7 linked regions of the Homo sapiens genome follow. The protein of the gene in region 1 purifies or fractionates together with the protein of each later gene. This does not show direct contact. Each region holds a gene or a part of one and is shown in the gene's direction. Other genes may lie near its edges.

The links.
Region 2: the proteins of BRD8 (region 1) and SGPL1 purify together in Homo sapiens (affinity purification with mass spectrometry, with the first as the bait; one large-scale study listed by BioGRID). This does not show direct contact.
Region 3: the proteins of BRD8 (region 1) and DDX24 purify together in Homo sapiens (affinity purification with mass spectrometry, with the first as the bait; one large-scale study listed by BioGRID). This does not show direct contact.
Region 4: the proteins of BRD8 (region 1) and GCDH purify together in Homo sapiens (affinity purification with mass spectrometry, with the first as the bait; one large-scale study listed by BioGRID). This does not show direct contact.
Region 5: the proteins of BRD8 (region 1) and ZNHIT6 purify together in Homo sapiens (affinity purification with mass spectrometry, with the first as the bait; one large-scale study listed by BioGRID). This does not show direct contact.
Region 6: the proteins of BRD8 (region 1) and CMC1 purify together in Homo sapiens (affinity purification with mass spectrometry, with the first as the bait; one large-scale study listed by BioGRID). This does not show direct contact.
Region 7: the proteins of BRD8 (region 1) and PKP2 purify together in Homo sapiens (affinity purification with mass spectrometry, with the first as the bait; one large-scale study listed by BioGRID). This does not show direct contact.

Annotation. Positions count from the first base shown.
Region 1 is NC_000005.10:138,172,131-138,175,630, reverse strand, and holds part of BRD8 (bromodomain-containing protein 8), read left to right. Parts: intron 1-3,496; coding exon 3,497-3,500. UniProt on the Homo sapiens protein: May act as a coactivator during transcriptional activation by hormone-activated nuclear receptors (NR). Isoform 2 stimulates transcriptional activation by AR/DHTR, ESR1/NR3A1, RXRA/NR2B1 and THRB/ERBA2.
Region 2 is NC_000010.11:70,822,448-70,825,947, forward strand, and holds part of SGPL1 (sphingosine-1-phosphate lyase 1), read left to right. Parts: intron 1-3,500. UniProt on the Homo sapiens protein: Cleaves phosphorylated sphingoid bases (PSBs), such as sphingosine-1-phosphate, into fatty aldehydes and phosphoethanolamine. Elevates stress-induced ceramide production and apoptosis.
Region 3 is NC_000014.9:94,071,203-94,074,702, reverse strand, and holds part of DDX24 (ATP-dependent RNA helicase DDX24), read left to right. Parts: intron 1-3,500. UniProt on the Homo sapiens protein: ATP-dependent RNA helicase that plays a role in various aspects of RNA metabolism including pre-mRNA splicing and is thereby involved in different biological processes such as cell cycle regulation or innate immunity.
Region 4 is NC_000019.10:12,894,160-12,897,329, forward strand, and holds part of GCDH (glutaryl-CoA dehydrogenase, mitochondrial isoform a precursor), read left to right. Parts: exon of another isoform or gene 1-752; intron 753-1,832; coding exon 1,833-1,962; intron 1,963-2,045; coding exon 2,046-2,262; intron 2,263-2,750; coding exon 2,751-2,854; intron 2,855-3,143; coding exon 3,144-3,170. UniProt on the Homo sapiens protein: Catalyzes the oxidative decarboxylation of glutaryl-CoA to crotonyl-CoA and CO(2) in the degradative pathway of L-lysine, L-hydroxylysine, and L-tryptophan metabolism. It uses electron transfer flavoprotein as its electron acceptor. Isoform Short is inactive.
Region 5 is NC_000001.11:85,652,934-85,656,433, reverse strand, and holds part of ZNHIT6 (box C/D snoRNA protein 1), read left to right. Parts: intron 1-2,335; coding exon 2,336-2,376; 3' UTR 2,377-3,500. UniProt on the Homo sapiens protein: Required for box C/D snoRNAs accumulation involved in snoRNA processing, snoRNA transport to the nucleolus and ribosome biogenesis.
Region 6 is NC_000003.12:28,244,619-28,248,118, forward strand, and holds part of CMC1 (COX assembly mitochondrial protein homolog), read left to right. Parts: intron 1-3,500. UniProt on the Homo sapiens protein: Component of the MITRAC (mitochondrial translation regulation assembly intermediate of cytochrome c oxidase complex) complex, that regulates cytochrome c oxidase assembly.
Region 7 is NC_000012.12:32,793,017-32,795,777, reverse strand, and holds part of PKP2 (plakophilin-2), read left to right. Parts: intron 1-2,761. UniProt on the Homo sapiens protein: A component of desmosome cell-cell junctions which are required for positive regulation of cellular adhesion.

The DNA of each region.
Region 1 (3,500 bases):
TGGCCTCAAGTGATCCTCCCAGTTTAGCATCCTGAGTAGTTGGGAATACAGACCCTTGCCACCATGCTTGACTAATTTTTTGTGTTTTTTGTCACTTGTTGCCCAGGCTGGTCTTGAACTCCTGGGCTCAAGTGATCCTCCCACCTTAGCCTCCTAAAGTGCTAGGATTATAGGCGTGAGCCATCACTCCCAGCCTAGAACTATCATCATTTTACCTTTCTCGGTATCAGCCCCTCACCCCCTTTCTTTTGAATCATCCATTATGAATTTAACTCTCTTGCCACATTTATAAACAATTCAGTACTTTGCTGATTGTCATGCTTCCTAGCATTTTTTTTGTTTGTTTTTTAAATCTAATTTTTGAAGTAATATGTGGCCACCATAAAAACAAAAACACTATATAGAAAGCAATAGCAACAAAGAAATGGGTTAAAAACTTAAGTTTAAGGCCGGGCGCAGTGGCTCACGCCTGTAATCCCAGCACTTTGGGAGGCCGAGGTGGGCGGATCACAAGGTCAGGAGATTGAGACCATCCTGGCTAACACGGTGAAACCCCGTCTCTACTAAAAATACAAAAATCAGGTGTGGCGGCGTGCGCCTGTAGTCCCAGCTACTCAGGAGGCTGAGGCAGGAGAATGGTGTGAACCCAGGAGGCGGGGCTTGCAGTGATTTGAGATCGTGCCACTGCACTCCAGCCTGGGCAACAGAGCAAGACGCCATCTCAAAAAAAAAAAAAAAAAACTTGAGTTTATTTTTTGTCACACATACAGGAAGTCTAGGCAGTCCACAGCTCTCATAGCAACTTCACAGTGACATTAGAGGCTCAGGATATTCTCTTTCTGTTCCACCTTCCTCAGTGCATAGTTTATCTTCTGGTTATCTTATGGTTCACGGTGGCTGCTTGACCTTCAGCTATCACATCCTTGTTCCATGCAACAAGAAGGAAGGGGGTTGGTAAGAAAAGTCACATCTCTTCCCTTTTAACAACTTTTTTGTGATATAATTGATGTGCAGTAAACTGCACCTTTTTTTTTTTTTTGAGATGGAGTCTCTGTTGCGCAGGCTGGAGTGCAGTGGTGCAATCTTGGCTCACTGGAACCTCTGCTTCCCAGGTTCAAGTGATTCTCCCACCTCAGCCTCCCGTGTAGCTGGGACTACAGGCCTTTGCCACCATGCCTGGCTAATTTTTGTATTTTTTGGTAGAGATAGGGTTTTACCATGTTGGCCAGGCTGGTCTTGAACTCCTGACCTCAGATGATCCACCTGCCTCGGCCTCCCAAAGTGCCGGGATTACAGGCATGAGCTACGACACCCGGCCAGTGCACACATTTAGAGCATAAGACATGGTATTTTTGAAATATATATACATTTGTGAAACTATCCACAATTAAGGTAATTATTATAGTATCCATTAACAGATGAATGGGTAAAGAAAAAATATATATGTATACACACACACACACACACACACACAATGGAATACTGTTGAGCCATAAAAAAGAATTAAATCCTCCATTTGTGATTCCATGGTTGAGCCTGGAGGATAGTATGTAAAGTGAAATAAGCCAGACACATAAAGAAATACCATATGATCTCAGTTATATGTGGAATCTAGGAAAAATTATAGACCTCACAGAACTAGAGAATAGAATGGGGCTGGGTGCAATGGCTCACATCTATAATCCCAGAACTTTGGGAGGCCAAGGCAGGAGGTTGCTTGAGATCATGAATTGGAGACCAGTCTGGGCAATATGACAAAACTATAAAAAAACACAAAAATACTAGCCAGGTCTGGTGGTGTGTGCCTATAGTTCCAGCTACTCGGGAGGCTGAGGTGTGAGGATGGCTTGAGCCAGGGAGGCAACATAAGAGAAACTGTTCCCTACAAAAAAGAAAATTAGCCAGGCATGATGGTGCATCTGTGATTTCAGCTACTTGGGTGGGGCTGCAGTGGGAGGTTGCCTAAGCCTCAGAGGTGGAAGCAACAGCAAGCCATGATTGTGCCACTGCACTGAAGTCTGGGTGACAAAGTGAGATACTGTCTAAACAAAAACAATGTGTGTTTTGTATGTGTGTGTGTGTGTGTGTATACACATCACATATATTTGTATATGTATATAAATTGAGCTCATTTTTAAACAAAACAGGTAAACTGGTTTGAAATAGAATCTAATCTGTATATTTCCTCACATTTTTATTAGATAAATAGTGTTAAGAATCTTTTTTTTTTTTTGAGATGGAGTCTCACTGTGTCACCCAGGTTGGAATGCAGTGGCACGATCTCGGCTCACTGCAACCTCCACCTCCTGGATTTAAGTGATTGTCCTGGCTCAGCCTCCCGAGTAGCTGGGATTAAAGGTGCACGCCACCATGCCTGGCTAATTTTTGTATTTTTAGTAGAGGTGGGGTTTCACCACATTGGCCAGGCTGGTCTCAAACTCCTCATCTCAAGCAGTCTGCCCTCCTCGACCTCCCGAAGTGTTGGGATTACAGGCGTGAGTCACCACGCCCAGCCATAGAAAAATAGTATAAGAATACTTGAGTAAAAGTTTTAAATTTTATTATTTTATCAGCAGATACTAAGTCATAAGATTCAAAATTATATGCAGTGTCTTCCTCCCGTTACTATCCCCCGTCTACTAGTGTTAGCAGTTTCTTGTGTCTCTCCAGCAAAATTTTATGTGAGCAAATATTTTCTTTTTCCCCTTCATCCCCCTCATTTTCTAACACAAATGATTATATACTATATATGCTGTTCTTTTTTTTTTGAATGGCGGAGGGGGTGGTCTTACTCTGTCACCCAGGCTGGAGTGCAGTGGCGCGATTTGGGCTCACTGCAGCCTCTTGACTTCCTGGGCTCAAGGGATCCTCCTACCTCAGCTGCCCAAGTAGCTGGGACCACAGGCCGCAGGTACGCACCACCATACCTTGTCGATTTTTTTTTTTTTTTTTTTTTTTTTTTTTTGTAGGGATGGGATCTCCTCGGGTGGCTTGAACTCCTGGGCTTGAGCTGTCCTCCCACCTCTGCCTCCCAGAGTGCTGGGATTACAGGCACGGTCCATTGCACACCTCGCATTCATTGGCTTTTTTTTTTTTTTTTTTTTTTTTTGAGATGGAGTCTCACTCTGTCCCCAGGCTGGAGTGCGGTGGTGAGATCTCGGCCCACTGTGACCTCCGCCTCCTGTGTTCAAGAGATTCTCCTGCCTCAGCCTCCCGAGTAGCTGGGACTACAGGTGCATGCCACCATGCCCAACTAATTTTTGTATTTTTAGTAGAGACGGGGTTTCACCATGTTGGCCAGGTTGGTATTGATCTCCTGACCTTGTGATCCACCCGTCTTGGCCTCCCAAAGTGCTGGGATTACAGGCGTGAGCCACCGCGCCTGGCCATTCGCATCTTTTTTATTCCAAAGTTTGAACTCCAAGCCTTGCACTCTCAGCATACCTCTCCTATTGTTTTCTGCTTGGTGTGTAATAAAGCTTTCCTCATTTTGTAGGGTA
Region 2 (3,500 bases), on another chromosome or scaffold:
AATCTAATATTATATACAGTTTGTGCACATTGGTGGCAGAATTGAGAATCAGCCTGGGTTTAAGAATTTCCATAGGGAATTGATGTGAATCAGTCTGTATGTGTAAATGTACAGAACCCAATTACTGAGATAAAAACCATGCTGTGGGGGAAGGGGAGATAGGGGCCCTCTGAGAAGATGGAATGGTGAAGGCTGCGAGTAGTTTGTGGATATATCAGTCATATCTTGGCATAATCCAACAGCGTACTAAGGGATCAAGGGACTATTTTCAAGGCTGAGCAGGTTTAAGGAAAACATCTAGGTGAAACATCTAAGGGCTAGCTAGCAATAGGAGAGCCATTATCACTCTTTTTTTTTTTTTTTTGTCATGGCAATTTCACTGAAGCTTTTATTGCCTCTATTGGTAATATGACAGGGACTGTAAGAAACACAATTGAACTTACAGAGATATGCAGATGATATTCACTAAAGATAATCTTCATCTCAAGTATTTTTTATATGTGGGCACTTCTAATTTTATACATTTTTCTATTTAAAAAGCATTACATTTTAAAATTTGTACCTGTTTTGACATTTGGCAAAAAGGAAACTGTACCTATGGTTCAGTTTAAAACAAAGAATCAGCATGGGGAGTTTACCGGAATGAGGACTGAAACACTTAGGAGTTAAAGCAATTCAAGGGGCGTGTGTGTGTCTCTCCCTTTCTCCGTCAATCTCTCTCACTCTCTCTGGCTCTCTCACAGACACAGACTCAAACACACACAGCCATATGTGTAATCATTTTTTAGTACAAAATATTCCCTGTAGCCAGACATTTATCTTCAGAATAATCACACCACATTAAATCAGTCTTCTCTTTTCAGCCCTAGTAAAAGTTTTGTTTAATTCTAAGATGCCATCATAGTGAACAACCTTAACTTTTATCCTACATAATTATATTCAAAGCTTTATGTATTTTTGTTTATAATTACACAGTAATTATAAATGTTTAGTACCAACCTGATGACAAACACTATTTTGTTGAAAAGGTTTTGCATTTAAAAAGAAAAATATGTAAAATCCAAGGCACTAGGCCACGAACCAATATCAGACTTTTAAAGAAAACACTTTATATTGAAAAAAAAAAAAAAAAAAAGCTAATGGGATCTCATTTCAAAACACAGCATATGTGAATTAATCAATCTGAAACCAATAACCATAACTCAAAATCTTCAAGACAGGAAACAAAACAGTACATATATATAGATATATAGATATATATATCTTTTAAAAATTTTTCATAATTGAAGTTCCTCTTTATATTTACAAAAAAATCAGGAAATACTGAAAGCAGCAAGATTCTTCTTTTTCCTTTTTCTTTTAATAACCAATTCCAGTAGCCTGAATAGAAATTTTCAGATTTTTCTTTTGGTAAAACTGCATTCTTGAATTAAAGTTATGATTGGAATATTGATATGTCTATAGGGAAAGCTTTCTAGTCTATTTCAAAATCATGTAAATAAAAAGCAGTTTTGATATGTCATTGTTTCTTAAAATAATTTCCATATTTGCATAAAATGTACTGCTATTCTAAGTACATTCCTTTGTTAATATCAACCCTAGACCTTAGAGAGTGCCTGGATATATATCCCAAGCAGAATCTGTTCCTATCAAAAGACCATAATCATCGAACATTTGAAGCATTACATTTCTAGCCTGCCTTACGGAAATGTTTAAGAAAGCAAGAAACCCTTCTTCACATGTCAGTAAGTGAACAGGGAAATGACCATTTTCAGCATAAAAGCAGCTCATGGGTCTTGTAATGAAAAAAATACATACAAGATAGCATTCTGCTTTGATGAGAAAACTGAGCTAATCTGAGTGAAACAAAAACAGTAAAGAGACTAGAAGCCAGATTGGTATTTTGCATCATGTATGCTTGTTTGAAAATCTTTGCTCCTGAAGTAAATATTTGGCAACCAAGTGATTAGCGACCACAATTTCAACAAAATAATAAGTCATTGAAAATGGACTATTTGTCTGAAAGAGCAATACCTATATTACAAAGATTGAACTTCATGGCTCATTACAACCATTTTCAAAATTTAACTGCAACTATCTTCTTATAAATTAAGAGAGTTTAATTTGTGTTCCATAGTGCGATGACAAAAAAAAAGTAAAAACAAAACAAAAAAACCCTCATGCCTAAATTTAGAATATTGTATTATGTAGCAATCCAAAACATTCAAAACAAATTAAATAGTTTAACTTATGTGACAGGCAGATAAGCATTTCAAAAGCATAATGAAGTCCAATTATGTAGTGCTTAATGTAGACAGGAGAAGAATCTAACATTATGCAGACATTTTCTAAATAAAAGCTCCCTGTAGGACAGCTATATATAAACATGGGTAAGGTAAGCGCAGACTAGTTCTGTGGAACCTTTTGAAATCAAGAGTCTAAAACACAATACATTTTTCAGGTAGGCACCAAGTTATCCTAAAAAATTTTCATGTTGGTTATTCTGACGTTGTTTTTTCTCTTTTTTTTTTTTTTTGAGACAAGTCTTGCTCTGTCGCCCAGGCTAGAGTGCAGTGGCTCGATCTCGGCTCACTGCAACCTCCGCCTCCTGGGTTCAAGTGATTCTCCTGCCTCAGCCTCCCAAGTAGCTGGGATTACACTCTTAAGCCTGTGAGAGGGCAAGGAAGGGAGTAGTTTCTGGAACTTTGAGAGAGTTGAGATGAAGGAGAAGGTAACCTGTAGGAATGCCAGCCAGTGACCCAGTAGGAAAGGCATCAAGGGGAATAAATACTTCAAACTCTTTTGCTACCCTCTGATCTCCTGCTGTAGCCTCCCATTGGTCTAATACAACTGGAAACCAGAGGTTAAGGAGTCTGGTTGATTTAATTCAGAGGGTGGAATCCGGAGGCACATAGCCGAGCTGGAAAATGCTGGATGGAGGATCTGGAGGAGGAGATCATCTGGAGGGGAGAACATCCAGCATGCTGGAGTTGAGAGGTCTAGTTTGTCTTAAAAGGCACAAATGAGGAGATAATTCTTGAACAGAATCTTGAAGGTGGATAGCATATGGATTATAGAAAGGGAATGTTCCCACTGATTTTAACAGGATAGATTCAGAGGCACACAGTTGCCACAGCTTTGGCAAGCCCAAAGCTGCTTTGTTCCAGTAGTAGCCTTAGAATCTTAATTGCCTGGAGGGCCTTTAAAAGTACTGCAGTCCAGCTTTCTTGCTGCCTAGGAATCCCTCTACAATGCCCTGTCAGGAGTGAGTGCTACATACTTTCTCAGGGGGTTCTTTCCACTGTTGGACAGCTTTAATTTTTAGAAAATTTTTCATGTGTCCAGATCACTGAATGCATCAGCTAGAATTAGGTTTGAGTGTATATAACAGAAAAACCTAAAGTAATAGAGATTTTTTAAAAGACATAAATATATTTCTTTAAGAGAAAACTGGCCTGGCGCGGTGGCTCACGCCTGTAATCCCAACACTTTGGGAGGCC
Region 3 (3,500 bases), on another chromosome or scaffold:
TAGCAGAATTTTGAATTGTAGTGGTAAAGTGGGCATTATTGCTTTGTGTTTGATCTTCTGGGGAAAACATTTAGTCTTTCACCATTAAGTCTGATCTTAGCTGTAGGTTTTTTGTAGGTGCTTTTTATCACGTTGTGGAAGTTCTCTTTGATTTCTCATTTGCTGAGAGGTTTTATCAGGGTTGGATGTTGGATATTTTTCAAATGCTTTTTTACTGCATATATTGAAATAGGTGGTTTTTCATTTTTAGTCTGCCAATGTGGTGAATGACATTGATTTTCAATTATGAAATTAGACTTACATTCCTGGGATAAACTGAACTTGGTCACAATATACTATTCTAATTATATTTTGTTGGATTTGATTTGCTAAAATTTTGTTGAGAATTTTTGAACTTATGTTCATGGGATAGTTGTAGTTTTCTTGTAATGTTTTGGTGTTGGAATCAGTAATGTAGCTTCAGAATGATTTCTGAAGTATTCTGTTCAGTTTTCTGAAAGAATTTATACAGGATTGACATTTTATACCCAACTTAAATTTTTGGTAGAATTCATCTGAGCCTGCACTTGTCTTTGTAGGAAGATTTTTGACTACAAATTTACTTTGTTTAATAGATTAGAGATATTTGTGTTACTTATTTTTTTCTTTTTTTTTTTTTTTGAGATGGAGTCTCGGTCTGTTGCCCAGGCTGGAGTGCAGTGGTGCGATCTCAGCTCACTGCAAGCTCTGCCTCCTGGGTTCACACCATTCTCCTGCCCCAGCGTCCCAGGTAGCTGGGACTACAGGTGCCCACCACCATGCCCGGCTAATTTTTTGTATTTTTAGTAGAGACAGGGTTTCACCGTGTTAACCAGGATGGTCTCAATTTCCTGACCTCGTGATCTGCTCGCCTCGGCCTCCCAAAGTTCTGGGATTACAAGCATGAGCCGCCACACCCGGCCACTTATTTTTTTCTTGAGTGACTGTTTTCTACTTGCAGTTCTATTAGTTTTTGTTTCATGTATTCTGACAATCAGTTTATGTGAATACATGTTTTATGGATTAAAATATTAGATTATTATTATATCCTCTAAATGAATTGGCTTGTTATCGTTATGAAATGGCCCCCTTTATCCTTAGTAATTTTTTTTTGTTCTAAAATGTCCTTTGGTATTGATGCAGCCAGTCCAGCTTTATTGATTAAGGGGTTAGCATGGTATGTGTTTTTCAATACTATTACTTTCCCTTATTTATATTTAATGTGAATTTCTTATAGGCAGCATATAAATGGGTCTTGCTGTTTAATCAGACAGTTCGTGTCTTTGAGTTGAATTATTGAAGCCAGGCATGGTGGCTCACATCTGTAATCCCAGCACTTTGGGAGGCCAAGGCATGTGGATCACTTGAGGCCAGGAGTTCAAAACCAGCCTGGCCAACATGGCGAAACTGTCTCTACTAAAAATACAAAAAAATAGCCAGGCGTGGTGGCATGTGCCTGTAGTCCCAGCTGCTTGGGGGGCTGAGCCACAAGAATTGCTTGAACCCAGGGGGCGGAGGTTGCAGTGAGCTGAGATTGTGCCACTGCACTCCATCCTGGGTGACAGAGTGAGACTCTATCTCAAAAAAAAAAAAAAAAAGAAAAGAAAATTAATTGAGTTACTGAGATTATTTACGTTTAATGATTATTGATAATGGTGGGTTTACTTATTTATTTTTTGACTGATAGCATACCTGATTTATTTATTTTTTTCACATTTCTGTTTTTTATTTTAAATTTTTTTTTCCTTTTCTATGTTTAGATGTTTATTTTTAATTTTTTTAAATTTTTCCATAAGTTATTGGTGTACAAGTGGTATTTGGTTACATGAGCAAGTTTTTTTGTTTGTTTGTTTTTTGAGACGGAGTCTTGCTTTGTCACCCTGGCTGGAGTGCAGTAGTGCTATCTCAGCTCACTGCAATCTCCACCTTCTGGGATCAAGCCATCCTCCTTCCTCAGCCTCCCAAGTAGCTGAACTACAGGCATGTGCCACCATGCCCGGCTACTTTTTGCATTTTTAGTAGAGACAGGGTTTCACCACGTTGGCCAGGTTGGTCTTGAACTCCTGAACTCAAGTAATCTGCCCACCTCGGCCTCCCAAAGTGTTGGGATTACAGGCGTGAGCCACTGTGCCAGTTTAGTGGTGATTTGTGAGATTTTGGTGCACCTATCACCCGAGCAATATACGCTACACCATATTTGTAGTATTTCATCCCTTGCCCCTCTTTCATTCTTCCCCCCAAGTACCCGGAGTCCATTGTATCATTCTTATGCTTTTGCATCCTCATAACTTAGTCCTGCATATCAGTGATAACATACGATGTTTGGTTTTCCATTCCTGAGTTACCTCACTTAGAATAATAGTCTCCAGTCTCATCCAGGTCACTGCAAATGCTGTTAATCCATTCCTTTTTATGGCTGCATAGTATTCCATCCTGTATATACCACAGTTTCTTTATCTACTCGTTGATTGATGGGCATTTGGGTTGGTTCCATGATTTTGCAGTTGTGAATTGTGCTGCTATAAAATTATGTGTGAAAGTATCTTTTTTGTATAATGACTTCTTTTCCTCTGGGTAGATACCCAGTAGTGGGATTGCTTGATCAAATGGTAGTTCTACTTTTAGTTCTTTAAGGAATCTCCACGCTGTTTTCCATAGTGGCTATACTAGTTTGCTTTCCCACCAGGACATAGAAGTGTTCCTTGTTCACCACATCCATGCCAACATTGTTTTTTTTTTGAGATGGAGTTTCGCTCTTGTTGCCCAGGCTGGAGTGCAATGGCGCAATCTCGGCTCACTGCAACCTCTGCCTCCCGGGTTCAAGTGATTCTCCTGCCTCAGCCTCCCGAGTAGCTGGGATTACAGGCATGCGCCACCATACCCAGCTAATTTTGTATTTTTAGTAGAGACGTGGTTTCTCCATGTTAGTCAGGCTGGTCTCAAACTCCCGACCTCGGGTGATCCGCCCATCTCGGCCTCCCAAAGTGCTGGGATTACAGGTGTGAGCCACTGTGCCCGGCTTTTTTTCTTTTTTTAAGTCAAAGGCTCACTCTGTTGCCCAGGCTGGGGTGCAGTGGCACAATCTTGGCTCACTGCAACCTCCGCTTCCCAGGTTCAAGTGATTCTCCTGCTTCAGCCTCCTTAAGTAGCTGGGATTACAGGTGCCTGCCACCATGCCCGACTAATTTTTGTATTTTTAGTAGACATGGGGTTTCACCATGTTGGCCAGGCTGGTCTTGAACTCCTGACCTCAGGTGATCTGCCCACCTCAACCTCCGGAAGTGCTGGGATTACAGGCATGAGCAACCGTGCCTGGCTGCCAACATCTACTGTTTTTTGATTTTTTGATTATGGCCATTCTTGCAGGAGTAAGGTGGTATCACATTGTGGTTTTGCTTTGCATTTCCCTGATCATTAGTGATGTTGAGCATTTTTTCATGTTTGTTGGCCATTTGTGTATCTTCTTTTGATAATTGTCTATT
Region 4 (3,170 bases), on another chromosome or scaffold:
ACTGGCTGCCAGAAACTCATTGAAGTGGACGATGAACGCAAACTTTGTACTTTTTATGAGAAGCGTATGGCCACAGAAGTTGCTGTTGACGCTCTGGGTGAAGAATGGAAGGGTTACGTGGTCGGAATCAGTGGTGGGAACAATAAACAAGGTTTCCCCTTGAAACAGGGTGTCTTGACCCATGGCCGTGTCCACTTGCTACTGAGTAAGGGGCATTCCTATTACAGACCAAGGAGAACTGGAGAAAGAAAGAGAAGATCAGTTCATGGTTGCATCGTGGATGCCAATCTGAGTGTTCTCAACTTGGTTATTGTAAAAAAAAGGAGAGAAGGGTATTCCTGGACTGACTGAGACTATGATGCCTCGTCACCTGGGGCCCAGTACAGCTAGCAGAATCCGTAAACTTTTCAGTCTCTCTAAAGAAAATGATGTCTGCCAGTATGTTGTAAAAAAGCCCTTAAACAAAGAAGGTAAGAAACCTAGGACCAAAGCACCCAAGATTCAGCGCCTTGTCACTCCACATGTCCTGCAGCACAAACAGCGGCGTATTGCTCTGAAGCAGCCGCATATTAAGAAAAATAAAGAAGAGGCTGCAGAATATGCTAAACTTTTGGCCAAGAGAATGAAGGAGGCTAAGAAGCACCAGGGACAAATCGTGAAGAGACGCAGACTGTCCTCTCTGCGAGCTTCCACTTCTAAGTCTGAATCCAGTCAGAAATAAGATTTTTTGAGTAACAAATAAGATCAGATTCGCAAAAAAAAAAAAAAACCCACAAGGCCCTGTGTGACCAGGCCTCTGCTGACCTTTCCACCTCATCTCTGGCCACTCATGTGATCCTCCCAGCCAGACTTAGCTACTTGAAATTCTCCAGAAGTACCACCAGTTCTTTACACATCTGTTCCCTCTCCCAGCACTGCTCTTCCCCACAGCCTCCTCCTGCTTAACTCCTCACACCCTTCCAGTTTGGCCAACTCCTTCCTGATTCCCTGGGTCCCCCTCCCCATCTTGGCATTGTGATCATGACTTTGGGGTAACCTGTCTCTTGAAAGCAGGGCCAGATCTAACTTAGTTATGAGGTCTGACTCAGGGGCGAGGGTAATTTTTTTTTTCTTTTTTTGAGACAAAGTCCCGCTCCGTCCCCCAGGCTGAAGTGCAGTGGTACAATCTTGGCTCACTGCAACCTGCGGTTCCCCAGTTCAAGCAATTCCTGTGCCTCGGCCTCCCAATTAGCTGGGATTGCAGGTGCTTGCTACCCGTGCCTGGCTAATTTTTGTATTTTTAGTAGAGATGGTGTTTCACTATGTTGGCCAGGCTGGTCTCGAACTCCAGACCTCAAGTGATCCATCTGCCTTGGCCTCCCAAAGTGCTGAGATTACATGTGTGAGCCACCTCGACTGGCCTAATTTTTTGTATTTTTAGTAGAGATGGGGTTTCACCATATTGGTCAGGCTGGATTTTTTTTCTTTTTTGAGATGGAGTCTTGCTCTGTTGCCCAGGCTGTAGTGCAGTGGCATGATCTTGGCTCACTGCAACCTCTCCTGCCCGGGTTCAAGCGATTCTCCTGCCTCAGTCTCCTGAGTAGCTGGGATTACAGGCACCCACCACCACATCTGGCTATTTTTTTTTTTTTTTTTTTTTAAGTAGAGATGGGGTTTCACCATGTTGGCCAGGCTGGTCTGGAACTCCTGACCTCAATTGATCCACCTGCCTTGGCCTCCTAAAGTGCTGGGATGACAGGCGTGAGCCACTGCACCCCGCCACGAGGATAATTTTTGAGTAAGGGGATGTATCAGGGACCAGGCAGCCTTGTGACTTTGTCTTGTGCCTGCAGCCAAGGGGGAGCTCCTGGGCTGCTTCGGGCTCACAGAGCCCAACAGCGGAAGTGACCCCAGCAGCATGGAGACCAGAGCCCACTACAACTCATCCAACAAGAGCTACACCCTCAATGGGACCAAGACCTGGTAAGGGTTCTGGGTGGTGGGCAGGTGGTGAACAGGGGCAAAGGGGCACTGGTCAGACCCCTCACCGACTGTTCCATCCCCAGGATCACGAACTCGCCTATGGCCGATCTGTTTGTAGTGTGGGCTCGGTGTGAAGATGGCTGCATTCGGGGCTTCCTGCTGGAGAAGGGGATGCGGGGTCTCTCGGCCCCCAGGATCCAGGGCAAGTTCTCGCTGCGGGCCTCAGCCACAGGCATGATCATCATGGACGGTGTGGAGGTGCCAGAGGAGAATGTGCTCCCTGGTGCATCCAGCCTGGGGGTAAGTGGCAGCCACTTTGGGAATGGGTGTTGGGTCACCTGCGGATGCGGCTTTGTCAGGCAGGCTCCGTGCTGGGGACGCGGCTCCCTGTGCCTGTGGAGCCCACACAGTGGTGATTCTTACTCAGCCGGACTCGCTGACGTGCTGAAAACTGCCCCCATTTGGTGACCGTCTCGCTCATCCCGGCTCTGCCCGGGACACATGGGCCTGAACCAGCTCAGTCATTTGACTCACAGTGCATCTTCTGGCATCCGTCAGCCTCCTGGCTCTGAGCATCGAACCCAGATGCCAGGCTGGGTGGGACTGTGTGCAAACCGAGTGAGCAGGCACCGAGCTTCAGTGCCAGGGCCATCTGTGATGTGAACCACAACCTGAGTCCCCCTGCGTGGGGTGGCTGGGGAGGAGGCTTTCCCTGCTTCAGAGTTGGTTCTGCATAGGCCCTCTTGGTGTCTCTTGGGTGGGCCTGAGGCGCCATCTCAACCCTACAGGGTCCCTTCGGCTGCCTGAACAACGCCCGGTACGGCATCGCGTGGGGCGTGCTTGGAGCTTCGGAGTTCTGCTTGCACACAGCCCGGCAGTACGCCCTCGACAGGTGTGTGAGGGCTGCAGTGAGATTCTCTGGGGGTGTGGGGCAGCTTGGGTTTCACTCTCTATACCATGGGTGACTCCCCAGCCCCCACCCACCAGGCCTGAGTTCCTTGCTCTGGAATGACCAGTGACGTCCTTCTGAGCAGCTGTGGGCTGAGTCAACGGCAGGGCCAGGGCAAGCTTGGGGGCACTGAGGCAGCCTGGGAAGGCGTCCTGGAGCAGGGGGCCCCAGGACAGGGACGGGGTGGGAGAGTGGGCCTCCCCTCGCTCTTACCCTGCCATTGCCCATGTAGGATGCAGTTTGGTGTCCCACTGGCCAG
Region 5 (3,500 bases), on another chromosome or scaffold:
TGAAGCAATAAGAAAAGACTACTTTACTAGCGTACTGGGAGCCTTATTGAGTAAAATTTGCTATTTTTCTGGTGGATATATGATGTTTGACTTATTTACAGGAACACAAATGACTCATGCTTTTAGTACAGAGGATTATTTAGAACTGTGTTAGCAAAGAACTAAAAGTATCTGACAGGATTTTAAAACCATACCAGTTTTGTCACATCGTAAGTACACACACCTTAAAAGTAATGCCCAGGTCTTCCTGTACATGCATTTCTTTCTGTAAGTACTTCAAGGTGTCTGTTTCTTTATACATTCTCACAGCATCAGATATTTTGCAGGGTGATACCTTGATGAGGGAAGGGGATTATGTAAGAAGAGGGCATTTTCTTTGGAAAGCCTTGAAATTCCTTCCCTCTCTGGAGGTAAAAAAGTTGGATTTTGATCCTGAGTTTATAGTACAAGTTGTCTCTTTCCTAATTTGGGGGTACATGTGTTTCTGGTCTGGGATTCAGTAGTTCCCACACCTGATGGTTGTTCTAATATTTGTTATGATTGTAGATTGCCATAATTATTTGAGTCTGCCTATATTAATCAGCAGTAGCCAAGATTTTGTTTGTTTGTTGCTTTTCAGTAATGGAAAAGGTTAACTGGAAAAGATAGAGCTATTTAGATACTCCACTAGATTGGAGATGCTAAGTGCTGATTACCTACCTTATATCAGTCCAGTGGGAAGTGCTCAGAATGGTGTAACTTGCTTCACAGGCTGTTATTAGACTAGCAGATTTAGATGAGGGAGAAAAGCATGCTGCATTTCAATCTAAGGAAAAAAGAATGGAACCCTATTCAAAGAAGAAAACTGGGCACCTTCAATAGGCAAAGAAAGGGGAAAATGTCCCATACTGCTAAAAATCTTTATTAATTTAGAAATGTCAGCAAAATAAACTTTTTGATGTTCTAGTGTAACTCAAGATTAGAAAATGCCTCAGCCTTTAGAGAAGGAATCCAACCCAAAATTGATTACTGGAATTAGTGAAAATACCTGGCATAGCAGCTACTCATATATCAGTCTCTTATTGGGCCAGTAAATCTTTCATCCATTCTCCCTCGCTCACCTTTCCTCATTCTTCCTTACTTCTCTTTTCTTTCTTTTCCTTTTGCAGGGAGAGAGAGGAGGATTTTTGGCACTGGAACACGCATGTAAAACTTATTATACAATAGATGCTAAAATAGAGTTTACCTGAAGTACAGAGACAGCCAGAGAAGGAAAAAAACTTTTAATATCATGGAGGCACTGGATGGACTGCTAAAGTTCATAAAATTTCACAAAGATTGGGATGATATCTTGGATGGAACTTATTTCAGTGCCTTACTCTTAGAAAGGGCTCAGTAAACACCATTGTGGTTGCTGGTACAATCTGAAGTCTAGGTACAACAGCAAACCCCAGGGAACTTGTCAGTTGGAATATGAGGCAGTTCCAGGTGTGTGCTTCTAGCATCAGCTTTTATAAGCTGTGGTCCCTTGAGCATTTGCTCTGCCTCTCTGAGCTTTATTTTTCTTATCTACTCAGTGGAGATAACAGCTATAAGCCTCAAAATAACCTATATTTTAGCATGACAATTTTTAAAGAGTTACTACCTATTATTTCCTTTTAGCTTCACAAGACCATGAAATAGAACACTTACTCCGGTTCCCATTTTGCAGATTTAGGGAAAAAACACTAAAAGGCAGAATGATTTGCAGTTACATTGATTCAGCAAACATACTCTAAATTGTGAGGATAGATACAGAGAAGAAAGGTCGAGTTTCTGTCCTCCAGGAACTCTCAGTTTAGTGAGTGAGTCATAGTTAGTCTTGCTTGCTCTAAGCAAGACAGGGGTGTCAGAGGAGCTCCATTTCTATTCTTCTTTCCTGTGAAAGGAAGGAGATGGCGATTAGCTAGTCTTCTGTCACTCCACATTCACTCAACATATACTGACCCTCAATTAAGTTTAAAAAAAAATCATGGAAAAAATTTATTCTAACCACAAGTGGCTGGCCAGGATAATAGTGATCTATTCAGTGGCATGAATATGGATCATAACCACATTGTGAAGTGACCATTCCTAAGTCTTCCACAGAGTCAGGAAGGATGTTACCTCACAAAATATAATTGCCACTTTCAGACATCATTTCTCTATTTATTGTGGCCAGAATTGTATATCCTAGCTGCCTGGGACATGACGCGGTTTGTGTGTCCCTGTGAGCAGTGCTTTTGCTGTACATCAGAAGGAGGGAGAGAAGAGGGACAGAGCAACCTAAACAGAAAAATATAAACACTTGACTGTATGTTTACTTATTTTTTTCTAGTGAAGAGTGAATCTACCAAGAACGTTGGCAATGAAAATTGAGCATTTTTTCTGGAAGAAGAAAGTGAAAACTTCCAGACAACTGCAGCAGACTCTGCATTGATGGGCTGTTGGCTGATTGGGGTATTGTCAATGGGTGATTGGAATTTTTTCTTTGTATGAAAAATAAGCTTAACTCTTTTAAAAAATGTATTTTATAACCTCTTGAATTAATTGACTTGTAAGACCCATTTATTCATATTAAGAACTCTCCTTTGCACTTGATCAGCATAGTACTTATTAGGCCCTGGCTTTTTAATATGCTTAATTGCTTAATTCCATAAACTGAAAACTTTTTTTTTCTTTTTTCTTTCTTTTTTTGAGATGGGGTCTTGGAGTGCAAGTGGTATGAGCATAGCTTCCTCAAATTCCTGGGCTCGAATGGTCCTCTCACTGCAGCCTCCCAACAGGCTGGTACCACCACACTCAGCTAAGTTTTTTGTTGTTGTTTTTTTTTGGTAGAGACAGGGTTGCGCTCTTTCGCCCAGGCTGGTCTCAAATTTGTGGCCTCAAGCAATCCTTCCACCTCAGACTCCAAAGCATTGGGATTACAGGCATCAGCCACCACACCTGGCCTTGAACATTTTTTATTTGTTAATTTCATGCGTGACGAAACCCAAGGATCACCCATGTCAACCACAAAGTTGGCATTCCCTTTAGTAGAACCTCACTAAACGGAAAGGCTGTACAACGCACCGTCTAGCCACAGGAGAACTAATCTTCTATCAGTTGCCCTTTCTTCTTTGGAGTTTTTATGTAACTTACCCTTGTGAGACAAGTTTTCTACTTGAGAAACTCCTAGTACAATGTCTTATACTAGAAGCCTGGATAAATACTATTAACTACTGTTTCTTATATTCACTTCAGAAAATCAGTGGCTCCACATTGTTTGAGCCATTAGTGATAACAAATTTGGATCTACTTACTCAAGTCTTATGAATTCTGTGCCTTTCATCACATTCCTAGCCCACTCTCATCATTACTGCAGAAGGGTGTTGTGATGACCAGTTTTATACTGTGTTTTGATATGTCTAGCAATAACTTAAAGAAAAAAAAACCTGGGAAATCTTCAACATGTTATTGGAACATATATGTATGTATTAATGTATATACATGGCTTAACTTAT
Region 6 (3,500 bases), on another chromosome or scaffold:
CTCAGGAGGCTGAGGAATGAGAATTTGAGCCTGGAAGGCAGCGGTTGCAGTGAGCCGAGGTTGCGCCACTGCACTCCAGCTTGGGCCACAGAGTGAGACTTCGTCTCAAAAAAAAAAAAAAGAGGAAATAGGGATAATTCCAGTTTTTGTACGTCAGCAGCTGGGTGGAAGGTCATGGTCAAATCTAACAATGTGATTATTGGAAACTTCATCAAAGGAAGGAATGGAAGCAATGGAGAGTAAAAAAGTGGAGTCAGCAAGTAGGAAGGTTTTTTTTTTTTTCCCTAAATTGTTTTGTCTGTTTAAATTCCAGAATAAAATGTATGGAAGCCAGTTTTTTTTTTTTTTTAATTTCGTGTTTATTTGGTTCATACGTTGAAGCTTAGTTTCACATTTTGATGTTTTACTGCTTTGTACAGCCCACGATGGTATTTGCCCATATTGAGTAAGTGAATAATAGATACACCAATTGAGGTTCATTTAGCAAAATCTGTTTTCCTATTGGTTTATTTTGTATTTTCTGTGATCTTTATAGAAGCTTGATTTTCATTTGGCAGCAACTTTTAATTAACTTTGTAGGGTCTCTGTTTTCCTCAAGAAACTGTGAACCCAGCGAAAAAATGCAGGTTACATGCTTATACATAGTTTTATTTACATTATTTTCCTTTTTTTTGTTAATGTAGCAGTAATAACAGCAATCTTTGCTTATTGCCATGTTCCGGACAAATTTTCAGACATGATTATATTCTCAGATGATGGCCCATAGGAACCTGCACCTGATAAATTTGATTTTTCACTTTCTCTATCAACTAAAGTAATTCCTTTCTCCCTTCTTTGACCTTTCCCCTTTTTAGTTAGGTTCTCTTCCCTCTGTCAACATAGATTCATTCTCTACTTATGCAGAATGGGGCATGGCAGCCTAAGGGAAGTTTCCTTAATCAGGTGTGTGTGTGTCCCTGTGTCCTTCTATTGCTGTTTTTTTCCGGGAACTTAATAAAAGGAGGAAGATGGGACAGAGATAGGGCTTAGGGGGTGGAAAGTGGGTTCAAGAATTTCATGACATTCCATGAGAAGGTGTTTAAGGTATATGTGTCTTGGGAAGATTTAATTATGGATGTTCTTGGAACATTTGGGTTGCAGTACTCCAAGTTGGGGTTCTTTCAGTGGTTCCTGTGGGAATGTAGGTAAATTACCTTTAGGGGTACAGGAACAGTACTAGCCCTTACATTTACTAGAAAATTTTAAGTTAGACATGTAAACAAACTTGAAGAATCTTTTTTGAGCATTGTATGTTTAATATGTAAAAGGTTGTGGAGTTGATTAGAAAAATTTTTTATTTTTTTTAGTGATGGGGTTTCACCATGTCGCTTAGGCTGCACTTGAACTCCTTGCTCAGGAGCACTTGAACTCCTGGGCTCAAGTAATCTGCCCACCTCGGCCTCCCAAAGTGCTGGGATTATAGGCATAAGCCACCCTGCCTGGCCTATAAGAAAAATTTTGATTTTATTATTGCCGCCATATCTCTAGAGTATCTTCTTAGACATAAATTACGTTGGTGGCTCAGAACAAAAAAAAAAAGACCTAACATCTACATTTTGTATATTTATAAATTAAAAGCATATTTGCCATAGAAAATACATTATTTTTGTCTCATCGGATTAACAACTCTCTGATGGTTGCTCTGTGAAATTTGAAAAACACAGGCTTAAGCAAAGACAATAAGAAAGAAGAATTGAGATCAAAGAGGAGTATGTGCCATGGCAGTGGGTTGGGGGTTGGGATTTCAGTTTTGAAGCATGAAATGATCTGTAAACCATTTCAAGGATTTTGAATTTTATACTAAGAACAATGGGAAGACACTGCAAGTTTTTAGGTAACGGAGTGACAAACAGAACTCTCCTTATTTTGTGTTGATCTGACTTTTGTTTAGATCAAGAATAACCTTGATCTCAGCCACATACTGCATACATGATGTGTCTTTCCAGAGTATCCCATCTGGAGGTACATGGGTATCTGTCTCTCGTAGGTGATGTTAATTTTGATTACCCACTCAAGGTTTTGCCCTGTTTTGTTGCCGTATTTTCTCTGTTTTGCAATTAGTAACTAATCTGTGGGAAGGTTAAGACCTTGTAAATATTTGCTTCTCATCAAATATTTCTCTTTGATTTGGGGTCCATTGATTTTTTTTTTTTTTTTTTTTACCTGATTCAGTCTTTCCCATAATGGTTGCAAAATAATGATTTTCTACCTCCAGCACACTCCCTTCACATTTACTAGATGGTTGTTGACATTTTACTGTAAGCAAGAGATTGCTTTGTTTCATTTTCATTGATTTATGAATTTATTATTGGTATTTTTGGTAAGGACTCATGAACTGCTGTATTTTCAATCGTTTGTACTCTGTTAATGTACATAAGTATTTTTTGTGTTCAAATTTCCCCAGATTTGGCCAGAGTTCCCTTTAAGCTAGCTTCTGGATCTTTGTCATATACTCTCACCATTTTTTTGAGCATTTCCTTTTTATTCCCTCACACAAGGTATCACTGCTTCATCTTGTACCTACCCTGGCCAATCCATACAATTAGTTATTTCTCTGAGAAGCCCTGGTTCCTTTTATTTGGGCACAGTATTAGAGAGTAAGAGCTGGTCACTAGAACTGCATGTAATTTGGGTGGTTTATTAATAGATTGCCTTTAGGAAAAGAAAAAAAAAACCCTTAAGAGAGTAAGGAAAATAGGAGACGGGAGGGGAAAAATCTGAGCAAGGATGTGGTTTCAGGTCTTAACCTAATCAGCTCTGGTGTACCACATGGTACATACAGTTTATTGTGCCTTGGAGGCAAGGGAGCTGGGCTTTCATGCCCTTTTTCAGTCATTGGTTACTGTAGTAGTTGGGAGAGGGACAGCAGCAAGGAAAACAGCAAAGGGCTACCATGGCCAGGGGCAGTCCTGAGAAGGTTGCAGATGTGAATGCTCCAACATTCTCTGCTGCAGGAGGGATACCAGCTCTATCCTAAAAATAATTTATCTGAATCTGTTAGGAATCTTAGTTGGATAGTAAGAGTTTTGATAGTAGTGAGAGTTCAGATAGTGACAGGTCAGATAGGAATGGGTACTTGCACACATGTATACATACACACAGGTGTGTGTACTGCATCCAGTAAAGTGTCACAGGTTGTGGTTAACAAGTTTGAATAACACTGGCTTAAGATATACCTAAGGTAGGCTAAGCTGTACTTTTTTTTTTGTCTTCTAGGCCATCGTACATGCTGTTCTCTCTAGAATTTCTCCCATCTTCCCTATCCCCAGGTCTACTGAATTCTTGTTCATTTTTCACAACTCAATTTAAAATCAGTTTCTTAGGAGAGTTTTCCTGATTGCCACCACCTCCAGTTAAACATTTTTTTTTAAGGTTTAGGATTAAAAACTCCACCAAAATATCATATAACCTATGTATAGAGTTGTTTTCCTTTTAGATATAAAATCCTTTTCTTTGACGAA
Region 7 (2,761 bases), on another chromosome or scaffold:
GGCAAAGCAGGAGTCCTCTGAATAGGCAAGTGCCCTTTTCCTCACTTCCATCTTAGGAGGGGATGTCACACCAGGTGGTTTAGAAGAAGCAGTGATGGGCTGGGCACAGTGGCTCATGCCTGTAATCCCAGCACTTTGGGAGGCCCAAGCAGATGGATCACTTGAGGTCAGAAGTTCGAGACCAGCCTGGCCGACATGGCAAAACCCTGTCTCTAGTAAAAATACAAAAATTAGCTGGGTGTGGTGGTGCGTGTCTGTAATTCTAGCTACTTGGAAGACTGAGGTTTGAGAATCACTTGAGCCCAGGAGGCAGAGGTTGCAATGAGCCGTGATCGTGCCACTGCACTCCAGCCTGGTTGACAGAGTGAGATTCTGTCTCAAAAAAGAAAAAAAAAAAAAAGCAGCAGCAGCAGTGATGACACAGGAGAAGCAGTCAGGGGGTAGCCTGATGAGAAAGTCTTGCTTTCACAGTTTTTTCTCTGTCTTATCTCTTCCGCATCTTATTCCCTTTTGATAATAGAAGGTCCAATGCATGTCATTCCACATCTGTGTTCCTGTTTTCAACTTTTCCCTATTAAAAAAAAAAAGGAGGAGAATGAAAAACCTTGTATAACCAAATTATTTACTATTAGTTAATTTAGAGTGATGAGATTGGAAAGGGGCATGAAGATTATCTTTTTCTCTTTATACAATTCTGAATTGTTTGACTTATTACAAATAGATATGTTACTTTTGTAAATAACCAAACAAGAAAAGAAATGGCTATGATAGCCTAGTTTTAATGAGTTACAAAGCAGATGACTTCACCTGTACTGAAGAAATGTGTGCTTGGCTGTACAGGGATGTACATGTTACCTCTACTACAGCCCCACCCAATTTAGGCCCCTTCTGCTCTGCAGCCCCACTCTGCAGTGCACACAAGGAAGGAAGACTGCATTTAGAGTCAGATTAAAACAAGCCCTGAGCACTGGCTGGAGTGTCAGTTCCCCAAGAATATTCACCCATCCCCAGAGGCTGGCAGATAGTATTAGAGTTGCTCAGTCTTTGTGGAAAGAGTGAATTACTGTTGCAAAACAGAAATGACTTTTCTTCCAAATAGTCATCCAAACTTCCAAGCAAATCACCGTAAGATAGTATGATGCTCATTATTCGAGTATTCAGACATAACAATTGTTGCACATGGCAATATGCAATTACTTTTGGAAACTTCTGGTAGCTTAGCAAGATAAGGGGTGAGCTACTCTGTTACTTGTTTATTTCCGAGTGTCCACTTGTGAGTCCTCACATGCCCTGTCTCAAAAACAAAAGTTAACAAGGAGCTTCTTGCCAGTGGTGTCTGCTGCTCTTTCCTTACTAGAGTGTTATATATCTGACCTACCGTTTGTGGACTAGCCTGGGAACTAATTATCATTTATAACATTACATCTTTGAATAAAAGAGTACCAAGTATCAAACAACCAACTTATAAACAAATATTATGAATATAACAGCCTTGCAATTTAATAACTTTTTACAGTTTTGAATATTAGAGACCCATCACTTTGATGGATTTATTTGCCCTTCAGTTATTACCAAGTGATTCTGAAAAGTCCAGGGGTTACTAATAAGTGCTGATTTGACTGCTCCTCCCTGCCAGGCTAGTATGGAGGAGAAAGACTTTTCACTCTTGAAGGAACACACCATGCTCTTCTCCGTACATCTTTGCACTCTCTGGTTTTGGTTTTATGTTTACAAATGCCTGTGATATGGGGGGAAAAAGAATCTTTGTTTAAGAAAAAAAATCAGCCATGTGCTAATCAGGTGATAGAAGAGAAAGAGATCTAAGGCGGCACTGATCTAAGCCAGAGGTGGGACATTTAGGATAAAGTTAAAAGCAGAACATGGGCTGGGCACAGTGGCTCACATCTGTAATCCCAGCACTATGAGAGGCCGAGGCAGGCGGATCATGAAGTCAGGAGATCGAGACCACCCTGGCTAACACAGTGAAACCCCATCTCTACTAAAAATACAAAAAATTAGCCTGGCGTGGTGGCATGCGCCTGTAGTCCCAGCTACTTCGGAGGCTGAGGCAGGAGAATCGCTTGAACCTGGGAGACGGAGGTTGCAGTGAGCCGAGATCGCTCCACTGCACTCCAGCCTCAAAAAAAAAAAAAAAAAAAAAAAAGCAGAATATGAAAGACTAAGTACAGTTCAAATGCAGTGGTGACTTTGATTTATAGCAAGAACAAGTTTTCCATTTGCTCTATATGGAAACGTAAAGAGATTTTGAAACTGCTTTAACAAGGGCTGCCACAAGAATTTCTTTTATTGACTTGAAAAATTACTCCTACATTCATGATGTCACAAAATCGTATGTATTTTTCAGTCATGGTTTCATGCATTTTTATTCTATAAACATACATTATAAGTATACAAATATAGATTATATTCTATAAATAATTCAAGGATTTATAACATATCTAAAGATACATTCCTTATAAATATCAGGGATTTTTCTGTATAAATTACTTGTTTGTTTATTATTATTATTATTATTTTGAGATGGAGTCTAGCTTTGTCACCAGGCTGGAGTGCAGTGGCGTGATCTCGGCTCACTGCAACCTCCGCCTCCCGGGTTCAAGTGATTCTCCTGCCTCAGCCTCCCGAGTAGCTGGGATTACAGGCACACACTGCCACGCCCAGCTAGATTTTGTATTTTTAGTACAGACGGGGTTTCACCATGTTGGCCAGGATGGTCTGACCTCGTGATCTACCCACCTCA